Homo sapiens: one gene and its partners. The protein of the gene in region 3 interacts with the protein of the main gene of each other region in a pairwise test. Each region holds a gene or a part of one and is shown on either strand. Other genes may lie near its edges.

Region 1 (7,024 bases), on a different chromosome or scaffold from region 3:
CTTGATTCCATCTGCAAATTTTGGCAAGTCATTTGACGTCTCGGTATCAGAATCATCATCTGTAAAAAGGGATTTGGAAGAATACTTATTATTTATACAATCAAAGCATTAATTATAGAACAAAGCATCAATTTTTAAATATGATTTTGAATTCCAACAGGAACTAAGGACTTGGATTTAGTCATAAAAAGATAAGTTATCTATATACCTCAGACACAGAAAATCTGCTCAAACAAGCAAATGCTTTAGAATTGATGCCCCATTTGGACTAGATTACACTTTTTGAAGTTCCTTAGGATTTTAAGTTTAAATTACTGAGTTTGAATAAGCCTTTATACCCTCAGGCCAGCCCCAGTGTTTCAAAGTTAGCATGGGGAAACTGAAATACAGGTTAATAGTGAAAACTGGGCTTCAACATTTTGCGAGGGACCAAGTTTTGCTCAGTCTGCCAAGGCTGGAGTACACTGGCATGATCATGGCTCACTCACTGCAGCCTCAAACTCCTGGGCTCAAGTGATCCTTCAGCCTCAGCCTCCTGAGTAGATAGGACTACAGACATGCACCACCAAGCCCGGGTAATTCTTGTTTTTTGAGATGGGGTCTTGCTATGTTGTCCAGGCTGGCCTTGAACTCCTGGCCTCAAGCGATCCTCCCACCTTGGCCTCCCAAAGACCTGGGATTACAGGCGTGAGCCACCACACTCAGCCCATCCATCATGTTTTCTTAAAATAGACCTTATTTTTTAGAATAGTTTTAGAATTACAGAAAAATCTGAGAGGATAGTATGGAGAGGTCCCATGTATCCCAGTTTCTCCACTACTAACATCTAACATTAGTGTGGCACATTTGTTACAATTAATGACCAATACTGGTAACTTATTAATAAAAGTCAATAAAGTCATCTAAATGCCCTTAGTTTTTAACCTAATGTCCCTTTTCTGTTCCAGGATACCACATTCCATTAAGGTGCCATGTCTCTCTATGCTATTGTTGGCTGTGGCAGTTTCTCACTCCTTGAGGAGTACTAATCAGGTATTCTGTAGGATGCCTTGCTAATGGAATTTGTCTGCTTTCTTTTTTTTAAAATGATTACGCTGGAATTATGGATTACTGGGAGATAGACCAGAGGTAAATTGCCATTTTCATCACTTCTTATCAAGGGTACATACTATCAATATGATTTATGGTTGTTGATGTTGATCTTGATCACCTGGCTAAGTCTCTATCAGGTTTCAACACTATAAAGTTGTCTTTTTTTTTTTTTTTTTTTTTGAGATGGAGTTTCGCTCTTGTTGCCCAGGCTGCAGTGCAATGGCGCGATCTCGGCTCACCACAACCTCCGCCTCCCAGGTTCAAGCAATTCTCCTGCCTCAGCCTCCCGAGTAGCTGGGATTACAGGCACGCACCACCACGCCCAGCTAATTTTGTATTTTTAGTAGAGACAGGGTCTCTCCATGTTGAGGCTGGTCTCAAACTCCTGACCTCAGGTGATCTGCCTGCCTCAGCCTCCCAAAGTGCTGGGATTACAGGCGTGAGCCACCGCACCTGGCCTAAAGTTGTGCTTTTACTTTCCATACTTTACCTTTTGTAAGAAGTCACTATGTGCAGACCATGCTTAAGGAGTGCAGACTTATATTCCACCTCCTAGAGGGAGGAGTAGCTACATAAATAATTTGGAGTTTTACTGCTTCTTGGCCTTTTGGCTAAGATGAAGTCTAATAATTTGGAATTTTTCTGCACAGATTTGCCTCATCTCCTCTATTTAATAATTTATAACAGCATGAATTCATGGATATTTATTTTATACTCTGGGTTATAATTTTTTGTCCCCAAATAGTTTTCAGTTTTGGCTGTTGGGAGCTCTTTAAGTTGACGTGTGCCCCTTTGGCATACCCCTGTCAAGTGCGTGTGTTTAGGTTTTTTTAAGTACTTTCCTATTTTCCAGCACTACAAAATGCTCCAGGTTCATCTTGTATATTTCCTGCCCCAGACCTAGAATCAGCCATTTTCCCAAGGAGGCATTAGAAACCAAGAGCTGGGCACTGAATGTGCTCATGCTCACTGCTTCTGGGTGTCATTTCTTTTAGCCCCTCTCAGCTAACACAGCAAAGTGTGTGTGTACAGTACCACATATATATACACACACATATCTACAAGCATTCTGTATGTAGCCATCTGAATCTATAGTAAGCTAAACAGGAATTCATACCGATGTCTCTAACTCTCTAACTTAAGTGCAAGTTGTAAATTGTTATCATTCACCAATGCTGTAGAACAGAGGAACCAATAGAAGATCCAACATTGAAAAATACCAAATCACCCTCTGTTCTTTTCTTCCACACTATGTGGTATAGCTGAGTAGAACTGTGTCTAACACTATTCTTAACCTTTCAACATAAATACTCCAACTCTGAGTCACTCCTGCATTGCCACCAATTCCTAACCAACTAAAGTGGATTTAGGGCTGAGAGCCGTGGCTCACACCTGCAATCTCAGCACTCTGTGAGGCCAACATGGGAGGACTGCTTGAGGCCAGGAGTTCAAGACCAGCCTGGGCAACACAGCAAGACCCTGTCTTTACAAAAAAATTTTTAAAAATTAGCCAGGCATCGTGGTGCATGCCTGTAGTCCCAGCTACTCAAAAGGCTGAGTGGGAGGATTGCTTTAGCTCAAGAGGTCAAGAATGCAGTCAGCCATAATCCATGGAGTGAGACATGGCTGCATGGGTGACAGAATGAAGACTGTCTCCCCCTAACCCCACCCCCTTCAAAAAATGGACTTAGGAGAGTGCACTTTTTTATTTATATGTCAGAAATAATGTTAAAAGTTAAAATTACAGCCGGGCACGGTGGCTCAAGCCTGTAATCCCAGCACTTTTGGAGGCCAAGGTGGGCGGATCATGAGGTCAGGAATTTGAGACCAGCCTGACCAACATGGTGAAACCCTGTCTCTACTAAAAGTACAAAAATTAGTTGAGCGTGGTGGCGCACACCTGTAACCCCAGCTACTCAGGAAGCTAAGGCAGGAGAATTGCTTGAACCTGGGAGGCGGAGGTTGCAGTGAGCCAAGATCGCGCTGCTGCACTCCAGCCTGGGCGACAAAGCGAGACTCCATCTCAAAAAAAAAAAAAAAAAAAAAGAATAGTTAAAATTACTTGCTTTCTTAAAAAAATACAACTTTGTTTTCTTACATTGTAACAAATTTCAAAGACTTGTCTGTTTTGAAATCATCAATCCACATTTTACCCACATTTTCAAGTAAGGAATAAAAAATGTAAAAGCAGTTTAAAGAAACATATTTTCGAAAATATTAGATATACCTTTGTTGTCAAAATATTTTAAATCTGGCTGTCTCATAGAACAGACACTGTAACAATGATCAGAGAAAATTCCATTGAATCCATCTGCAATTCTGCTTATTCCAGAGGAATCTGAACATAAAATGAAAAATATTTCAAGTACAGTAAACATACATATTTAATGAGAAACTTCCCGTTATCTAACTTATACAAATGTTCTTAATGTTAATTATAGTATCTGTAATGAAAATATTATACATTTTCAACTTTTAAAGCTTTTATATTTCAGATCCAATATTGACATAGGACTTTGAAAGAACCACAAATTACATACTCTAAAACATAACAACTTTGAAATATACAAGGATACATTTGTTTTATACTCAGAATCACACAAAATAAAAATATATGATAAACACTGTATTAACTGCACAAAACAGTGAAATAAACACCAGGAAGGTGTGCCATGTCATGCAGAGAAAGGTTGTTACATAGGGGAAATGGTAAGGACCACTTAGGGCTTCTGAATATAGTCATTTCAAGTGTTGTCTAGGAAGGGCCAGTAAGCAGTATACTAGGGTTAATTTCTTCAGATATGAAGAATGTGTAGGCTGGGTAGACTAATAGGTAAGACTGAGATGGTCCCAAGTAAATGTATGCGAGGTGTATTAGAGATGGCCACAAAGACCCCTTTTCTTATACTGCCAACACAGCAGAGCCAACCTCAATGAAAGGATCTAAAATTACACAGTCATCCAGCCTGGGCAGCATGGTGAAACCCCATCTCTACTTTAACACTACAAAAAATTAGCCAGGTGTGGCGGTACACGCCTGTAATCCCAGCTACTTGGGAGGCTGAGGCAGGAGAATCACTTGAACCCAGAAAGCAGAGGTTGCAGTGAGCTGACATCACACCATGGCACTCCAGCCTGGGCTAGAGAGTGAGACTCTGTCTCAAAAAAAAAAAAAAAAAAATTACACATTCAGCATGAAAGTTTACATTTCCTAAAGTAATAAAGAGGATAAAGTCTTTTTTCCCCAATAATGTAAAATATTTTCTACCAAGGTTGTCATTATTGGGTCTTAAGCACAGCTTAGGTATCAGACATGCAAATCCCAATTATGTTATATAAGTAAATAACCTTGGCTATCTAATTTTAAATATTTATAACCCATAGAGCTGTGAGGAATAATATAATGTCTGTAAAGTTCTTATGTGTGCCTAGCACATGGTAGACAATAAGGAATATATATTCAGATAATGTATTTAAACCGTTGTTTTACCTAAATATTGACCCAGATATTTAAGTCTTATCTGATCACTTAGGAGAAAATGGATGAGAATATAATTTTGTGGGAATTAATCCATACCCAACTTTAAAATAATTATACACTGACCTGAATAACGAGAAGGGTGTAGAGTCTTCCTTTTTCTTTTTTTAGGATACTCATTCATATCTTTTCAATCTAAAAAACGAGAAAAAATTAACAAATATGTCACAAATAACAACTGTTAATGACGTTATAAAAATTCTAACTGAAGAATTTATTGGCAATATGAAATATGTGAGCCACCTGAAAATCTATGGTATAAGAAAAGTGTTAAATGATGCCTCTGTTTGTATTTCAGATTGTTTTCCAGTCAGGTTTCAAGGCAGAAACTGATTTCTGTTTTCTTTCTTACGGAGGTTAAAAAATTCTTTTTCAAATGTTGATATAAATTGTGAGAACTGGATAATTACAATAAACCACATGTTTAAGTCATTTTATTTTGTGTATATATAAAAAAAGAAACACTGTGCCTATGGCACCATACTAGGAGTTTTATAGGCACATTTCCTACCATTGGAAGTATTTTTAGGTAGTTTTCAAGCTAAAGGCGGAGACATTTCCTTTAAAAAAATATTGTCACAAATATGTATCGGCCTCCTGGCTTCCAGAAAAAAGTACTCATCACACAGATCAGAATATAAATAATTTTCAAGAAAAAAATCATTTTCCTATTTATGAGGTCACATTCAACGTTCCACTGAGAACACAACACATGCAGCAACCACTATCCAATTAAATTCTCATTAACTGTTACAAAATTAATTAGTTTCAATACAGTCCACTTACTTGGTATAATTCTTACTACTGGAGTGAGGAAAAATGAATTACAATAAGTTTCTGTAGACAGTAAAAAATGCCTGTAAGTAAAACATGAAAGAAGTTATTAAGCAAAAATACAGCTCATTTCTGGTACTGAATAATACAATGGCACCAGATCTTTAATCAATTGGAAAGTTATACAGAACTAATTAAGATATATTATTTTGAAAACAATGTACTACATACTAAAAACTGTATATCTTGATAAATATGTGATTATATGCAAATTTCCACATTTCTTTGAAATGATTTACCTTCTATAGTTCTTTTTTTTTGAGACAGTCTCATGCCTGACCTATAGTTAAATCTTTTGACACCAAAATAGGACTATGAATCTGAATTAATTTATTCATCCATAAGGAAAGCAAGCATAATGAAAGCAAACCAAATTATAAACTTTTTGTTTTTGAGACCGAGTTTTGCTCTTGTTACCCAGGCTGGAGTGCAATGGCGCGATCTCAGCTCACTGCAACCTCTGCCTCCTGGGTTAAAGCGATTCTCCTGCCTCAGCCTCCCAAGTAGCTGGGATTACAGGCATGTGGCACCACACCGGGCTAATTTTTCTATTTTTAGCAGAGACGGGGTTTCACCATGTTGGCCAGGCTGGTCTCAAACTCCTGACCTCAGGTGATCCACCCACCTGGGCCTCCCAAAGTGCTGGGATTACAGGCGTGAGTCACCTTGCCTGGCCCAAATTATAAACTTTAAACTGTTACAGCCCTTATAGATTATTTATTTAAGAAATAAAAGATCGAGACCAGCCTGGCCAATATGGTGAAATCCCGTCTCTGCTAAAAATACAAAAATCAGCCGGGTGTGATGGTGCGCACCTGCAATCCCAGTTACTCAAGAGGCTGAGGCAGGAGAATGGCTTGAACCTGGGAGGCGGAGGGCTACAGTGAGCTGACATCGTGCCACTGCACTCCAGCCTGGGCAACAGAGCAAGACTCTCTCTCAAAAACAAAAAATCAAAACAAAACAAAAAAAGAAAAAAGTAAAAGTGATAATAATAATTTACTGACCACCAATTATGTACCAGGCTGTGAACATACTTTATCTCATTTAATCCTATGTAATCGTATGAGATGCAAAATTCACATCACCCTCTCAAAATTATAGTTCCTGTTATTGAGGAAACTGAGGCACAGTAAAGTCAAAGCTAGATACTCAGTAAATGCTGGGGTTGGGATTTGAATAAAGGTTTACCCAACTTTATTTATTAATCTATTTATTTATTTGAAACGGAGTCTTGCTCTGTCACCCAGGCTGGAGTGCAGTGGCACGATCTTGGCTCATTGCAACCTCTGCCTCCCCAGCTCAAGCGATTCTCCTGCTTCAGCCTCCTGAGTGGCCGGGATTACGGGCGCCCGCCAGCAGGAGGCTGGGATTACAGGTACCCGCCAGCACACCCAGCTAATTTTTGTATTTTTAGTAGAGACGGGGGTTTACTATGTTAGCCAGGCTGGTCTTGAACTCCTGACCTCAAGTGATCCGCCCACCTCAGCCTCCCAAAGTGCTGGGATTACAGGCACGAGGCACCGCGCCCGGCCTATAATGCTCTTAACACCAAGGTGA
Region 2 (7,024 bases), on a different chromosome or scaffold from region 3:
AATTTTAGGGCCAGGTTGTCAATTTTTGCAAAAAACGCAGCTGGAATTTTCATAGCAAAAATGTAGGTCAATTTGGAGTATACTACTATTTAACAATATTAAATATTCCAATCCATGAACATGGGATGTCTTTCCATTAATTTAGGTCTTCTTTAATTTCTCTCAACAGTGGTTTGTGGTTTTCAATGTACAAGTCTTGTACTTCTTTTATTAAATTTAGTATTAAGTGTTTTATTTTTTAGATGCTATTGTAAATTGTTTTTCCTAATTTTGTTATTTTGAACTTCTAGTCCATTGAAATACAATGGATTTTTGTATATTGGTCTTACATCTTGCAACTTTGCTAAATTCATTTTTTAGTTCTAATAGTTTTTTAAATGGATTCCTTAGGATTTTCTATATACGAAAGCATGTAATCTGAAAAGAGAGGTAGCTATAACTATTTATTTCCAATCTGGGAGCCTTCTATCTCTTTTTCTTGCCTAATTGCCCTGGCTAGAATCTCCTATACCGTGCTGCCTAGAAATGGAAAGAGCAGATACATTCAGTTTTCCACCATTAAATATGAGGTTAGCTGCAGATTTTTCACAAATGTATTTTATCAAGTTAAGGAAGTTCCTTTCTACTTGTCATTTGTTGAGTTTTTATCATGAAATGGTATTGGTTTTTTTTTAAATGCTTTTTCTGCATCTATTGAAATGGTTCATATAGTTTCAATGTTTGTTCTATCAACGTGGTGTATTATATAGATTGATTTTTGTATGCTGAATGAACCTTTCATTCTTGGGATACATCCTACTTGTTCATAATGTATAAATAATCCTTTTTATATGTTGCTAGATTTATTTTGCTAGTGTTTTGTTGAGGATGCTTCATCTGCATTCATAAGTGATAACAGTCTGTAGTTTTGTGATATCTTTGGTTTTGGTATTAGGGTATTGCTGGCTTCACAGAATGAATTGGAAAGAATTTCCTCCTCTTCTACTTTTTGGGGGAGCTTGTAAAAGACTGGTATTAATTCTTCTTTAAATGTTTGGTAGGATTTACCAGTGAAATTATCTGAGCCTAAGCTTTCCTTTGTGGGAAAATTTTAAATTACTAAGTCAGTCTCTACTTGTTATAGGTCTATTCAGATTTTCTATTTCTTCTTGAGCCAGATTCAGTAGTTTGTGTCTTTCTAAGTATTTGTCCATTTCATCCAGGTTATCTAACTTGAGGGCACATAATTATTCATAGTTATTTCCTTATAATTTTTTTTCTGTAAGGTTGGCAGTAAGGTCCCCTGTGTCATTCCTGATTTTAGCAATTGGAGTCTTCTTTTTTCTTGGCTTTACCATCCTTTTTATAATAATAACCTTCCTCCTAACTAGCACTCCTGAGTCTTCTTAATTATTCTCAGAGGTATTAATCACCTTCTACCCTATCATATAATTTTTTTAGTATTTATGTTTATTGCCTGCCTCTATCCAGCAGTATATAAGCTCCCTAAGGGCAGGCATCCTTGACTGCTTTGTTCACTACTGTTTCCCAAGCACCTATGGCACATGGTAAGTACAGGCAACCAGACTTGCTGAATAAATGAATAAGTCTTCAGGAGAGCAAAAGAAATCTGGAACAGACTAAGACAGCTATGACTGTAACTATTATCCTTAAAAGAAACCAGGAAAAATGAAAAAAAAAAAAAAAAGCATGGTGATTTTGAAGCTCTGGCCCTGTGTTGTCCAATACTGTGGTCACTGTCACCATGTAGTCATAAGAACCTGGTCCAAACTGAGATGTGCCGTAAGGGTAAAATACACACCAGATTTCAAGACGTAGTACAAAAAGGAATGCAAAATAGCTTAATAATTTCTGTTTTGATTACATGTTGAAATGATTTTTTAATTTTTGTACAGATGGGGTTTTGCCATGTTGCCCACGGTCTCTAACTCCTGGGCTCAAGTGATCCACCCACCTTGGCCTCCCAAAGTGCTGGGATTACAGGCACGAGCCACCGCACCAGGCCTCTGAATGATATTTTGGATATAAAGTTAAATAAATATATTTTTAAAGTTCCTTTCACCTGTTTCTTTTTTTTCTTTACGTACTAGAAAATTTTTAATCACACATATGGCTCAACTTTGTATCACATTTTATCTCTTCTGGACAATGCAGCTCTCGACAACTTGGATGGGGTGGGCGGTGGGGTAGTAATGTCATTGTGAATGTAGAGAAAATGAAGGTAAACTTCAAATTCATGCCTAGGTGGGCTCTGAAAGAACCAAGGGTTATATGAAGGAGTGTGGGCTTAGGCGAGTGTCTGGCCTCAGGTGCAGACTCCTCTGCAGAGTCTAGGTATGCAGTGCCCATTGGAATCACCTGGGAGCTTTTAAAAACTGCTGATACCCCATTTCCCTAGTGTCTGGCTAAATGCGATGGGGCCTGAACACTCCTCAGGGGCTTCCCATGTGTGGTTGGGGTTGAGAACCACCACATGGTCATCTTCTTTGGGAGGGCCTGCTCCTAACCAGACTCCTACCCTTTGCCCAGAAAGCCCCTAACTAATGGCCTGGATCAAACTCACAGACGCTGAGAATCAGGCAGCACCTCAACAAACAAGAAGTCATGTGAACAACCTCATTAAGAAATTAGCTGAAAGCTGCAAGCCTCTTGGAGTCAAGCTCCATGACAGACATATAAGTGCTGACAGCCCTGCTACTGCATTTCACCGGGTGACAAGACTGTCTACCCAGACTGGACATCAGAATACCCGCAAGACCTACCTGCAGAGCCACCCAATACCTCTTATAAGGCCCTCATCTTTTACAGGGTGGGTGTGCCACTGCTCTGGGAAGCAGTCCCAGGTGCAAGGCCTGAGTGACCCAGACCATTGCTGAGTCACTGTGGAGCACCTACTGTGTGCCAGGCACTGTTCTCAGCACTTGAATTCAGGGTGTGTTGGGTGACAGAATCAAGGCTCCTCAGCTCCTTGCTGGAAACGGCACTCACTGGGATGTGCTTGACACCCAGAGGGCATTACAGCAAAAGGCATAACACCTGCAGTACTTCATTGTAAGGGCGACAGCAGCTCCTGCCCTCCAGGCTTCTCTTGCTGCTCACAAAGTGAGGAAACAAGGACTGTGGGTCCCAAATTCCACCCTGTACAAGTGTGCCATTATGCTTCCTCCCATAAAATCTTCTTAAATCTTTGCCTGGTTGTTGCCAATCTGTTCTAGAATTCAACAAAAGCTTCTGTCTGGCTTAACAAAGAATCATAACTTAAGTTATTTTTGGATAATTATGTCAATACAAAAAGAACTATGTCCACCAGGAACTGAGCCCTCAACAAGTGACCCTCTAACCCAGGAGACAAAAGCCACCCAAAAGTTTGGCAGCTAGCAACACCACCTTTCTCTAACATAAAAGGATGTTTTCATTTTAAATAAATTCAAGTTTTTCTATGAATAAAATATACATATCTGTGTAATATGCCAATATGATAATTTTTTAAAAACCAAGTTGATACATAATGCATTTTTATGTTTCTACACTAACAAAGTGACTTGCAGCTGTAAAAGATGCTTTAAAAATAATCAAATCAGATTCAATTTTTGTGGGGGAAGAGAGAGAGAATTAAATTTTTTGAAAATATATTTAAAATCTCCAGAAAGGCCACATCTCTTGCCTGGATGAGGGAGGTGGCATCACGGAACACAGGGAAATGGGAGTGGTCTTCCCAGGGACAGACATTGCACACTTATCTCCACCTGGTCTCTTCTAGTAAATTACTGTTAAATTCTAGGGTGGCTCAATATAGACTCTTTAAAGGCCAATGGAGCAAAAATGAGGGAAACATCCCTGTTAGAATTTTTAAGTAGAAGATACAAAACCTAAACATTGCATATCTCTCCCCTCTGCTCTTCGGGATTCCTAGAAAAGGGGGATGGAAAGATGGGAATAGGTCCTTCAGTTCTTTCAAGTGAGACCTGAGACATCCTTAGTCCTGTGGCCTTTGACCGCGGCAGGAGTCCACTTGCACCCACCTCCACAGGCCCAGCCCCTGCAGCTGGTCGTGCTGAGAACACAGCTTTCCTTCACAACAGTTGGGCCCTCCTAATGACCTTTCAGGCCCTGATTTCAAATATAGCATCCTATTATATATCCCATCACACTTGCTAGAGGATGGGTCCCAATTTTTGGTTTAAAAAATGTGGCCAACGCGTATGCACACATTTCTCTGCTAAGAATTGGAAGGCACTTAGCTGAAGAAAAGACTTACTGACACGGGGGGTCGTCATGAAAGTGTTGGGCAAACAGATTGCAGAATCACATATATGGTGATTCCATCTGTGTTTTGAAATCATCTATATCTGCTATATATGTAGATGTGTATATATGTACACACACACATATCCTCATACTGACATTAAAATTAAGAGGCCAGGTACCTCTGGAGAGTGAGGGAACTTGAGTGTAAAGGAGTCACATTTTACGGCACGTACTTCTGTATTACTTGGTGTGTGTGTGTATGTGTCTGTGTGTGTTTTACAAGATCATATTGCCCTGGTAATTTAATTAATAAAATAAAAATTTCTAGTCTTGCTGGTGTCATATGGAGTCAGAGTGTTGGTTGTCTTTGATGACGAAACGAAGTAACATCTTCACAAAGGGGAACCTAGAGGTAGGGGGCCCTTGGTTTGGAAAAGCACAAATACATCATGGTGAGCAGCCGGCCAAGGACAGGTGCCCAAAAGCCTCAGGTCAGAGTAGACCACAAGCTGGCCATGAGTCAGCCAGTGGAGTCACAGCATTTTTAAAGCACAGAATAGAGTAGGGTAATGAGCTTCTGAGAGGAGCAGAATGTGGATTCAAATCCTGACCCTGTGTGACCTTTCCTGGGGAATGGGGCTTCTCTGTGCCTCAGCTACCTCTCCTGTAAACTTGGGATGATTACAGTACCTACTTCACAGATCTAGCGCGTTAATATAATAAGCACCATTTAAGCGCTAGCAACTGTTACCAGAAAAGAAAAGTCCTGGTAGCAAGCATGCAGATATATTCTTAGCTCTCAGCAAAGTAGGTTATGGTATAAAAATACCATTAAATAGTAACTAAACTAGCATCACCTTAATGCACATCTTGCCAGCAATCTCAGCATGTGCGACTTCTTTTTAAACTACCCTACATTAAGGAATCAAGACCAGGAGGACTCTTGCTGGCCTCCTGGGAGCCAGGCCGGAAGGCAGAGGCCCACCCAACTCACCCCTTCCCCACCTCGGGCCAGGCACTGGGGACACAACCATGGCAGGGAGCCGGACCTCCGCCTCTCTGTGGGTAAGCTGTCCAGCACATCAGATGGGGCAAAGTGCCAGGGAGAAGACAAGCTAGGGGGAGGGGCAGGGAGCAGTGGGGAGGCAAAAGGAGAGCCAGGGCAGGGGGCATCTGGGAGAGCCTGCTGAGCAGCCCAAGGGAGTGAGCTGTGAGGGGTCAGGGGAAGAGAGGCAGCTTGGCCAAGGCCCCCGAGGCAGGGAGTGCCTGGTGTGCTCTGGGGAGAGAGAAAGCAAATACGATGATCCCTCCTCCTCCATTCCTCTCTTCCCTGGCAACCGGCTCAGAGCTTGGAGACTCAAAAATTGATTCGCTCTGAATTTCCTAAGTTTATCTATTAACTACCTAACAGGCCATTCGCTTGTTCACAGTGTGCCTCTCGGCAGAAGGCATCCGCCAGCTGACAGTGATGCCCCCGCGAGCGGTCAGGCCACACACACCCCAGGATATAGTCGCTTGCTGGCGACTGGGGTACCACTGGATGGAGTCAAGGACATATCAAGGTCAGTTTTGGGCCTATCTCAGGTTTAGTGGGAGAGATGGGAGGGGTGGGAGATGCCCTAGACTGGAGCTCAGGGGCCATTCTTGCTGCCTGGGCTTGGGCAAGTTGCCAATCTTTCCTGAACTTCGGTTCTTTGTCTGTAAAATGGGGCTGGGGAGAAGGGCCTTTCTGGACAATTGGAATCAAATAAAACCAAACATTTAAAGTAATGTACACATTAGGTGTTGTTACAACATGGCCCAGCCCTAGCTGCCATCTCCGCCAAAAAAGGAGGGGCCCATGAACCCCTGAAATGAAATCCAAAACCTCGTGGGAGATGCTTTCTTCTAGGGAGATCTCCATGTTTGAAAAGAGACAACTCCCCAAAAATGGAAGATTCACGAGGCTGAATACAAAATGTGAGACCTCTTCCTACCCAACAAACGGTCGACACTGACAACCCATCAACACTGACAACCTGCCAACCTGAGGAATGGCAGCACCCAGGGAAAGGGGCGGCCCCAACGCTGCTGTGTGAGTGGACACTGCAGGGAGAGTGGCGGCACCTGCAAAGACAGAAGACTCGAGGACCCTCCTCGGCAGCCCCACTGCCAGGGACACACCCTAAAGAAACTCTCACACCTGCGCCCCAGACGCATTCAGGGCCCGGGCCGTGACGGTGCTGGCCACAGTGTGCTGAGTGACAATGGAACACAGGAGACAACCTAGATTTCCATTGGGATGGGGGCACGCAGGACAGTGTTCACACTACAGGTCGCCACGCAGCAGCCTGCGATCAAACACATCGACGAGCACAGGTGTCAACAAGACTGTTGAGTGAAAAGTACAAGTTCCAGGTTTTTTATGTAAAGTTAAGAAAAACACCCACACAAAACAATCCTATATATTAGTTATGGATACTTATATCCATGTGTAAATGTACCCGAAAGAGCCTGGGAGGAAAAATACAAAAGCAGTAGTTGGAAGGAAATGGGTTACTTAATATTTCTTTGTAATACTTCTTATAATTTTTTTAAAAAAGGACTTAAAGCCAAAATGACAAAAGAGTAACCATTTTCAATTCTGTGTAGAAGAGATACTGTGTTCATTTTATTATTTCTGGGATTTTTCTGGATTTTTAAAGTTTATCCAATATAAAAAAAATAAAAACTGCACTGTTGGCTGGGCCATGCCGGGCTGAGGGCTTCCTTGCCTTGCTCTGTACCTGCTCCCACA
Region 3 (7,429 bases):
GGGCCCGACATCTTAACCTTACTGTCTCCTGTTACTCCTTATGACGCCAGCCCCAGGATTACAGTCTTTAAAATGGGGGTTAATGTCTTACCCAGCCTCCTTCTTCCCCTGGCCTTCACCACCTCGGTGGGCTAATAACCGTGAAAATAAAAGCAGGAGCAAAGCTTTGGGTGCTAACTGCATGTCAGGAACTATGCCACGTGCTTTTTTTATGGATTCAGCATCGTAGAGATGAGACACATGGGACTCAGAATGTGGTGGTAACAGCATTTGAACTCAAGTCTCTCTGGACATAAAAAATCCTCATCGTAATAGCTCCTACTGAGACAGTCATGGTCATTGCTGATTACTGGGTGGTCACTGTGGGTAACGCAGGAGCTGACATATATCATTCTCCCCACTGCTTAACTGCTTACAACGATCCCTGCATTTATCATTAGGCCCATTTCTCAGAAAAGTAAGTAGAGGCTAAAAAGTTGAGAGCACGCAACAAACGTGGGATTGGGTCCCAGTCTGTGGCGGCTCCCTCAGCCCTCGGCGTGGCCCTCACCTTGCCCTGGGGTTTCACCCCAGCTGCGGTGAACACTAGCAACTTCTCCAAGTTCTCCCAGCCGGGGTTTGACTTCCGCATACGCTTCTTCGGCAGCTCAGCATCTCTCTTCTCATCTTGGGACACCAGAGGGGTGCCAGGCGGAGTATCTGGCTGGGATTCTGGTGTGCGGGTCTCTTCCCAGCGCAGGGTCAGTGGGTGGAGGCCATTGACCAAATACAGTGTGTCCCCCACCCCCAGAGAGCCCTCCAACCCCGGCTTCAACTCCTGGGTCCCGGTAGTTGAGGGGTTAACTCCCAGCTGCAGAAAGAGAGGGAGGAGCTGGGACTGGCTCCGCCCCCACCGGGAGCTTCCTCCAATCAAATACCCAGCGGAAAAATCAGCCCTTCTCCACCACTATCAGACCCTTAGGCCCCACCTCTTCACTTTGGAACGGGCTTTGGAACGGTTACAGGTTTTCAGCCTTGTCCGAATCTTTTTTTTTTTTTTTTTTTTTTTTCCCCTGGAGATATAGGCTTGTTTTGTCGCCCAGGCTGGAGTGCAGTGGTGCAATCTTGGCTCATTGAAACCTGTGCCTCCTGGGTTCAAACGATTCTCCTGCCTCAGCTACCCGAGTAGCTGGGATTACAGGCACCCGCCACCATGCCCCGCTAATTTTTGTATTTTTAGTAGAGATGGGGTTTCGCCATGTTGGCCAGGCTGGTCACAAACTCCTGATCTCGGGTGATCCGCCCGCCTAGCCTCCCAAAGTGCTGGGATTACAGGCGTGAGCCACCGCGCCTGGCCGCCTTGTCCAATTTCTAAGGTCTTGGACAGGTACCCACCCCACTGAAACAGGCAACACTTCTTTCTTTACTGGACACATCCCCTTCTCTCCCAGCCATATTTTTTCTTTTCTTTTTTTGAGACAGGTTCTCGCTCTGTCACCCAGGCTGAAGTACAGTGTGGTGATCACTGCTCACTACACCCTTGACCTACTGGGCTCAAGGGATCCTCCCGCTTCAGCCTCCCGATTAGGAACTACAAGGACGCGCCACCATTCCCGCTAATTTTTTAGAGAGACAGGTTTCACCATGTCGCTCAGGCTGGTCTCGAACTCCTGGGTTCAAGCGATCCGCCCGCCTCGGCCTCCCAAAGTGCTGGGATTACAGGCTTGAGCCACCACGCCCGGCCCCAATCAGATTTTCCTAATGTACCCCTTCACTGACGGCTTGCAATTCCTCCCCAAATCCCATCCCCAGGCCTTGCTGGCCCTTGCAGAGGCACTGATACCTGTTTCACTGCCACTGTCCGGGTCTCAGGATCTGCGACCAGCTCCACTGAGGATTGGAGGGGTGGAGTCAGGATTTGCATCCTTGTGTGATTGGGTCCCTCATTTCTGGGGAGTGTGGCCTGCTTCAGGCTATAGCATCCAGGGAGTAAGAGGCAGTTTATTTCTACATGGGATTGGCTCCTTGACATGCAGTAGCCAGATAGTGGCACTAGGATTGCCTGACACTGGTCCTTGCAAGGGACAGGGAGGTACTTTTCTCTACAGAATTGGTTTCCTCCTTGACAAAAAATGTGGCTAGATATAGGTCCGGGGCTTGGCCTGTTACCATCCATCCCAACCTAGCGACATTTACTTTTCTCCACAGGATCATTTTTCTCTTGACGAAGGTCGTCGCCTGTTTCTGGATTTCCCGATGGCCTGAGCATCATCCGCGCAGTGAACATCCTCCCTAAATCGGCTCGATCCCCTCTCCCCCAAAGGATCTAGCTAATTCTAAATCAAGCACAAACTTTATCTTCCTGTACTCCCTAGAGAGCACCTTCCGACTTCGGGGCTGGCTGCACCACTGCAATCCCGCGTAGCAGCCAAGCGTCCCTCTGGATTGTTCCCGCTTTTGCAGCAGGCCACACCCCCTCCAGCTCAGGCCCCGCTCACCTTGAGTTCTGGAGCACTTCCGGTCCGTAACCTGGGTCAGGGGTCCCCTGCCCAGGACCAGGGCTTGCCCGTCCGAGGGCAGGAAGATGGGGGGCGCTCCCCCAGGGGGGCTCTCGAGCCACAAGCGGCCCGGGGCCTCCACCTCGCCCATCCTGGGTGCCGGCCTGGGGAGCAGGTAAACGGGCTTGAGCGGCGCACAGCCCCAATTTGCTGCAGGAAGTCCCGCCTCCTCCCACATCCACTAGAAAGTTTCCCCACCATTAACTGCTCCGGAAGTCCCACCCGCTCGCCTTCCGCGGGTCGACCCGTTTCCCAGGCGACGACGCGTGCTCCATCCCTCCCCGAGTTGCAATCCCCACTTTCCAGCGTACAGGCAGAGAGCCTCGCACATGCCTCCGCCCCGCCCCGTACTCACCCGGGACCGCGGCTTGGGCTCACGGCCACTTCCGACCAGGGAGGTCCTGCCCGAGGTGCCCCGCCTGCAACCCGGCCGGCGGCGGTCGGTTCCTCGGCGGACGGAAATGACTCGTCCCCTCGTGGGTGGGGGGCGGGGCCTGGCCTCCTCCCACAGCAGCCACGCCCCTTCCCCGACTCCCGGCCCCCAGGGTCTCTCGGCAGCCCTGACCTTCATCTCTCTTGCTGCAACGCGAGGCTCAGGCCGGTAGCGGGGACTGGATCCTCCGTTAGCAGATTTGCCTCTTTCCACCTTGACTTCTAATTTTCATCCCAGGGAGGAAGATTTTTTTCCCATCTGATGGTCATTGTCAGTCGAGGAAACCTCCGCCCCCGACAGCGCCCCTAAGTCCTTCTTTGGCTTCACCCTCGATGTTCTAGTTTCCTCATCTATAAAAAGGATAATCGTTTCCGCTTCGTGGGGTTACCATGACGATTAAAGGAGCTAACACGTGACAAAAGCTTTAAAAAATGGGTGGTAGTGAGCCCTGTTTAAGTCTTTTTTTTTTTTTTTTTTTGAGACGGAGTCTCACTCTGTCGCCCAGGCTGGAGTGCAGTGGCGCGATCTCGGCTCACCTGCAAGCTCCGCCTCCCGGGTTGACGCCATTCTCCTGTCTCAGCCTCCCGAGTAGCTGGGACTACAGGCGCCCGCCACCACGCCCAGCTAATTTTTTGTATTTTGAGTAGAGACGGGGTTTCACCGTGTTAGCCAGGACGGTCTCGATCTCCTGATCTCGTGATCCGCCCACCTCGGCCTCCCAAAGTGCTCAGATCCGTTTAAGTCTTATTTAGTGTTAGCATTCTTTCGGTAGTGGTCTGGTGGGACTACGTTTACCTAGTCCTAATTTCGGACGAGGTTCCACCTGCTTTCTAACCTCCAGCCATTTTTTTTTCCCTTTGGAGAAGGGGTCTCACTGTGCTGCCCAGGCTGATCTCGACCTCCTGGTGTCATGTGATCCTCCCGCCTTGGCCTCCCAGCGTGTTGGGCTTATAGGCGTGAGGCACCAAGCCCAGTTGCTCCAGTCCTTTTATAATAGAAGACTCCCGGCTGGAGTTCCTGGCTTTGCTGGTGAATATGTGGGCTCTGTCTCCAACACTCACCTCCTCAAGATTGGGTTCCATGGTCACATAAGACTGGGATGCTCTCCTCCACCCCATGAACCTGTGTCTTCATATCTATAAAATGGGCACAAAGCCAGGCGCCGTGGCTCACGCCTGTAATCCCAGCACTTTGGGAGGCCAAGGCGGGTGGATCATTTGAGGTCAGGAGTTCAAGACCATCCTGACCAACATGATGAAACCCTGTTTCTACTGAAAATACAAAAATTACCCGGGCGGCAGTGGCGCGTAATCCCAGCTACTCGGGAGGTTGAGGCAGGAGAATCGCTTGAACCTGGGCGAGAGTGGGACCCTGTCTCAAAAAAGTAAATAAAATGGGCACAGTAATTCCAACCCCCAGCTATTCACTGATAATCAGACGCTGCCATTCGGTTTCAGAAAATGTTGAATGAACACTCACAACACACTTCACATTTATCTCAGAGGTAAAACTCTTTAATCTCAGAGCGCCCCTCCCAACTGCCGATCCCCCAACCCCTCACTCTCTCCCCCACACCAGGGCCGGAGAGTGAGGGCCCCTGCCCCCCACCTTGGGTGGACGAGGGCCCTTTAAGGCACCTGTGGAGGTGGGGGGCGAGGGGCGGGAGCTGGTACCATCCTGGATGCAGGGACGGGCTTCGATTGGCAGGCTGTTGTGGGGATGGATGGAACCAATGAAAGGGGGTGCCAGAGGCAGGGACAGTTTGGGGCCATCCCTGAGGGGGTCAGGGAACAAGTTGTCGGGACGTGGGCAAAGACGACCCCAGTCCCCGTAGTGTAAAGAACGTAAATTGAAGGCCCCGGGCCAATTCTGGGAAGAGGAGGGCTTGGCCACGCCCCCAGGAAGCTGGAGCCAATTGGGAGGGAGAACTCAGGAAAAGCGGACGGTGACTATGTAGAGACTGGTCAAGCCCTTTACAGGATTTGAGCCAATCAAAAAAAGAGCTGTCCAGCGACTAGGGGATGGAGCCAATGCCGTGCGAGCAAATCCCTTGTCGCTAGGCGGAAAACAAAGGAGTTGACCCATTTAGAGCTTAGAACTCAGCGAGCCAATCCCTTAATAGAAGGAATCTGTCGCTAGGCGGAGAGAGACGACAGACCCAATCGGGAAACGGGACAGATGCCGCTCCTCGGCGCGGCAGGTCGTGGGCTGGAAGGACGGCGGGGATTGGCAGAGGCGGGACAATCTTGGGAATGGGAGACGCAAGGAGGCCGGTCCCGGATCGGCCTCAGATTAGCAGGCCCCGGGAGTGGGGCGGGGGCGTAGTGTGGGACGGGGCGGACGCGGCCCGGGGCGCTCCCTCCCTGGACTTCAATATTTCCGCTTCAGCTTCTGGAAGTCGCTGGTGTTAAGCCGCGGCCGTGGCAGGTCCCCGAAGACCTGGGTGTCCTCGGCCTCTCGCAGCACCAGCGCGCGCATGCTCGCCGCGATGCGGTCCAGGTCGGGCGAAGAGGGCTGCGGGGACGGCGACGGGGCGAGGTCAGCGCCGGCAGGGCAATCCCCCTGCACCCACACGCGGTCCAGGGGTGCACCCGGGCTCCAAGCCCACTTCTAGCACGTCCCTGCCCTGCCACCTGTGCCCTGCGATGCCCACTGCCAGCAGTGCCCCTCCCCGTCTTGCTCCACGTAGGAACCCTTCTACCCGGTTCAGACACCTCCTCCACGAAGCCTACCTGCCCCTCTCCCTCTCCCCTTCTTGGCCTAGGACATTGCTTCCTACACAGTGGAAGTGCTGTTGCCTGCTAGCCATTAAGGCTGAGTGCACCGTCTCATGTCTGAGGATCTGGGCTGGGGTTTCAGTCATGTTCCAATCAGACCTCTGCCGCTGACAAACTATGAGCAAGAGGTTTTGCTTCCCTAGGCCTCAGTCTCCCCTTCTGAAAAATGGGGCGGATAACAGGGTCTCTGTGAGGGCTGAGATAATCAGCTGTTACTGCCTTATCATGTGGCCACTGCGCTACAGAAAAGATCCCTCGCTGTGTCAGCCCCCGCCAAGGAGCCTGCAGTTCTGGCACCTAGTACTGCCTCCACTACAGCCCCCGTCACCCGGAGCTGGGCCTGTCCCCTCGCAGGATGGGACCCGGAGACCCAGATCAGGAACTGGACCTGAGCCCAGTGGGAGACCAGCCCCCGGGCACAGCACGCAAGAGGCCAGAGCATTCAATTAACTGTGTTGCCATGAGTCGCAAGCACAGAGAGCAGCAGCAGGTGGACCCCGCCCGCACCAGGCCCTGTTCCTGGTCTTCAGTGCTCACTGCTTCATTGAGGGAGGATGCACAGAAAAGGTCACCACTGTGACTGCTGGTTTGCATATAAGGACACTGAGGCTTGAGGGGGGGACTGTGGGGACCCAGGCCTCCTCCCTCAAAGCCCACAGCTCCTTCCTGAAACACACCTGGGTTCCAGTCCCAGCTCTGCCTCTCAGGGAAGTCACATGTCCCCTCAGTGCCTCAGTTTCCCCTCTGCTTCAGGGAGGCTCAGTGAAGGGTGAGGAGGACCCACCTAGGCCAGCAGAGCCCAGCCCAGGAGCTTCAAACAGGGGTTGCTACAAGGGGTGAACAGGGGACCAGGGGGTGGGACAAATTCTGCAAAGGGCTAGGAATGTGCAGGGTGGGGATGGGAGGTGATCTGAACCCTCCAAGCCTCAGTTTCTCCACTGGAGGGCATGCCAAAACACCTGTGCCTTGCCCAGAGCAGGTGTTCTATAAATAGAGACGCTCCTGGAAAGGAGAGGCCTTCTCTATAAGGCACTAGGACACATGGTAAGGCTGCAATTGTTAAAACTGCAAGGCTCGTGTCCAAGAACTCGCCTCTTGAGGTTGAGGGGAGGATTCAGTTAGCTTATGGGTGGAAAGCAGCATCCATGCTGGAGGGCTTCCTGGAGGAGGCGGCTCAGAGCCCTTCCAGCTGCCCTCCCTACCTCCCCACATTTGCCCCTCACCGGCCCATTCTCCTCATCTGATGACCGCGCCTCTGTCCTCTTCTCCTTGAAGCCCCAGACGGGCACAGACACAGGCAGGGACTTGGCGTACTGCTGTGTGGGTAGGGCTGAGGCTGGGGGCACTGAGCAGGTGGGGGGGCCGGCGGGGGTCTCCTCGCTCAGGCTGCCATCTGAAAGAGAGGGTGGACTTCAGCTTCTGTCCCTGCCTTTGTGTCGGCCGTGTGCCTGCCCTCAGGTCGGGAGGGGAACAGCCTGGGACACTCACCATCTGTACTCTCGGGGTCTGACTCACAGAAGGGGGGAAGGTCCTGGAGGGTGGCGTCCTCATCCATCACAAAGAGCCCTGTGGATGACCTGAGTTAGAGGCCCAGGCCAGGCAGCACCTAGCCATGCTCCATGTGTCCTCCTCCTCAGCCACGGCCACTGCCACAGCCACCACCTCCACCTCCCTGAAGCTTC

What was found. The genes of interacting proteins can lie anywhere in the genome.
Region 1: the proteins of PNKP (region 3) and ZNF639 interact in binary tests that used the Homo sapiens proteins (3 or more experiments, as listed by UniProt).
Region 2: the proteins of PNKP (region 3) and CAMK2B interact in binary tests that used the Homo sapiens proteins (3 or more experiments, as listed by UniProt).

Annotation. Positions count from the first base shown.
Region 1 is NC_000003.12:179,326,024-179,333,047, reverse strand, and holds part of ZNF639 (zinc finger protein 639), read right to left. Parts: intron 6,084-7,024; exon of another isoform or gene 5,704-6,083; intron 5,488-5,703; 5' UTR 5,417-5,487; intron 4,766-5,416; 5' UTR 4,755-4,765; coding exon 4,697-4,754; intron 3,431-4,696; coding exon 3,320-3,430; intron 60-3,319; coding exon 1-59. UniProt on the Homo sapiens protein: Binds DNA and may function as a transcriptional repressor.
Region 2 is NC_000007.14:44,315,578-44,322,601, forward strand, and holds part of CAMK2B (calcium/calmodulin-dependent protein kinase type II subunit beta), read right to left. Parts: intron 6,979-7,024; exon of another isoform or gene 6,031-6,978; intron 5,811-6,030; exon of another isoform or gene 5,692-5,810; intron 1-5,691. UniProt on the Homo sapiens protein: Calcium/calmodulin-dependent protein kinase that functions autonomously after Ca(2+)/calmodulin-binding and autophosphorylation, and is involved in dendritic spine and synapse formation, neuronal plasticity and regulation of sarcoplasmic reticulum Ca(2+) transport in skeletal muscle.
Region 3 is NC_000019.10:49,864,577-49,872,005, forward strand, and holds the start of PNKP (bifunctional polynucleotide phosphatase/kinase), read right to left. Parts: upstream 3,001-7,429; 5' UTR 2,893-3,000; intron 2,642-2,892; 5' UTR 2,629-2,641; coding exon 2,478-2,628; intron 1,870-2,477; coding exon 1,823-1,869; intron 851-1,822; coding exon 551-850; intron 1-550. Other genes in the region: AKT1S1 (proline-rich AKT1 substrate 1), read right to left, coding at 5,341-5,484, 6,971-7,140, 7,236-7,313. UniProt on the Homo sapiens protein: Plays a key role in the repair of DNA damage, functioning as part of both the non-homologous end-joining (NHEJ) and base excision repair (BER) pathways.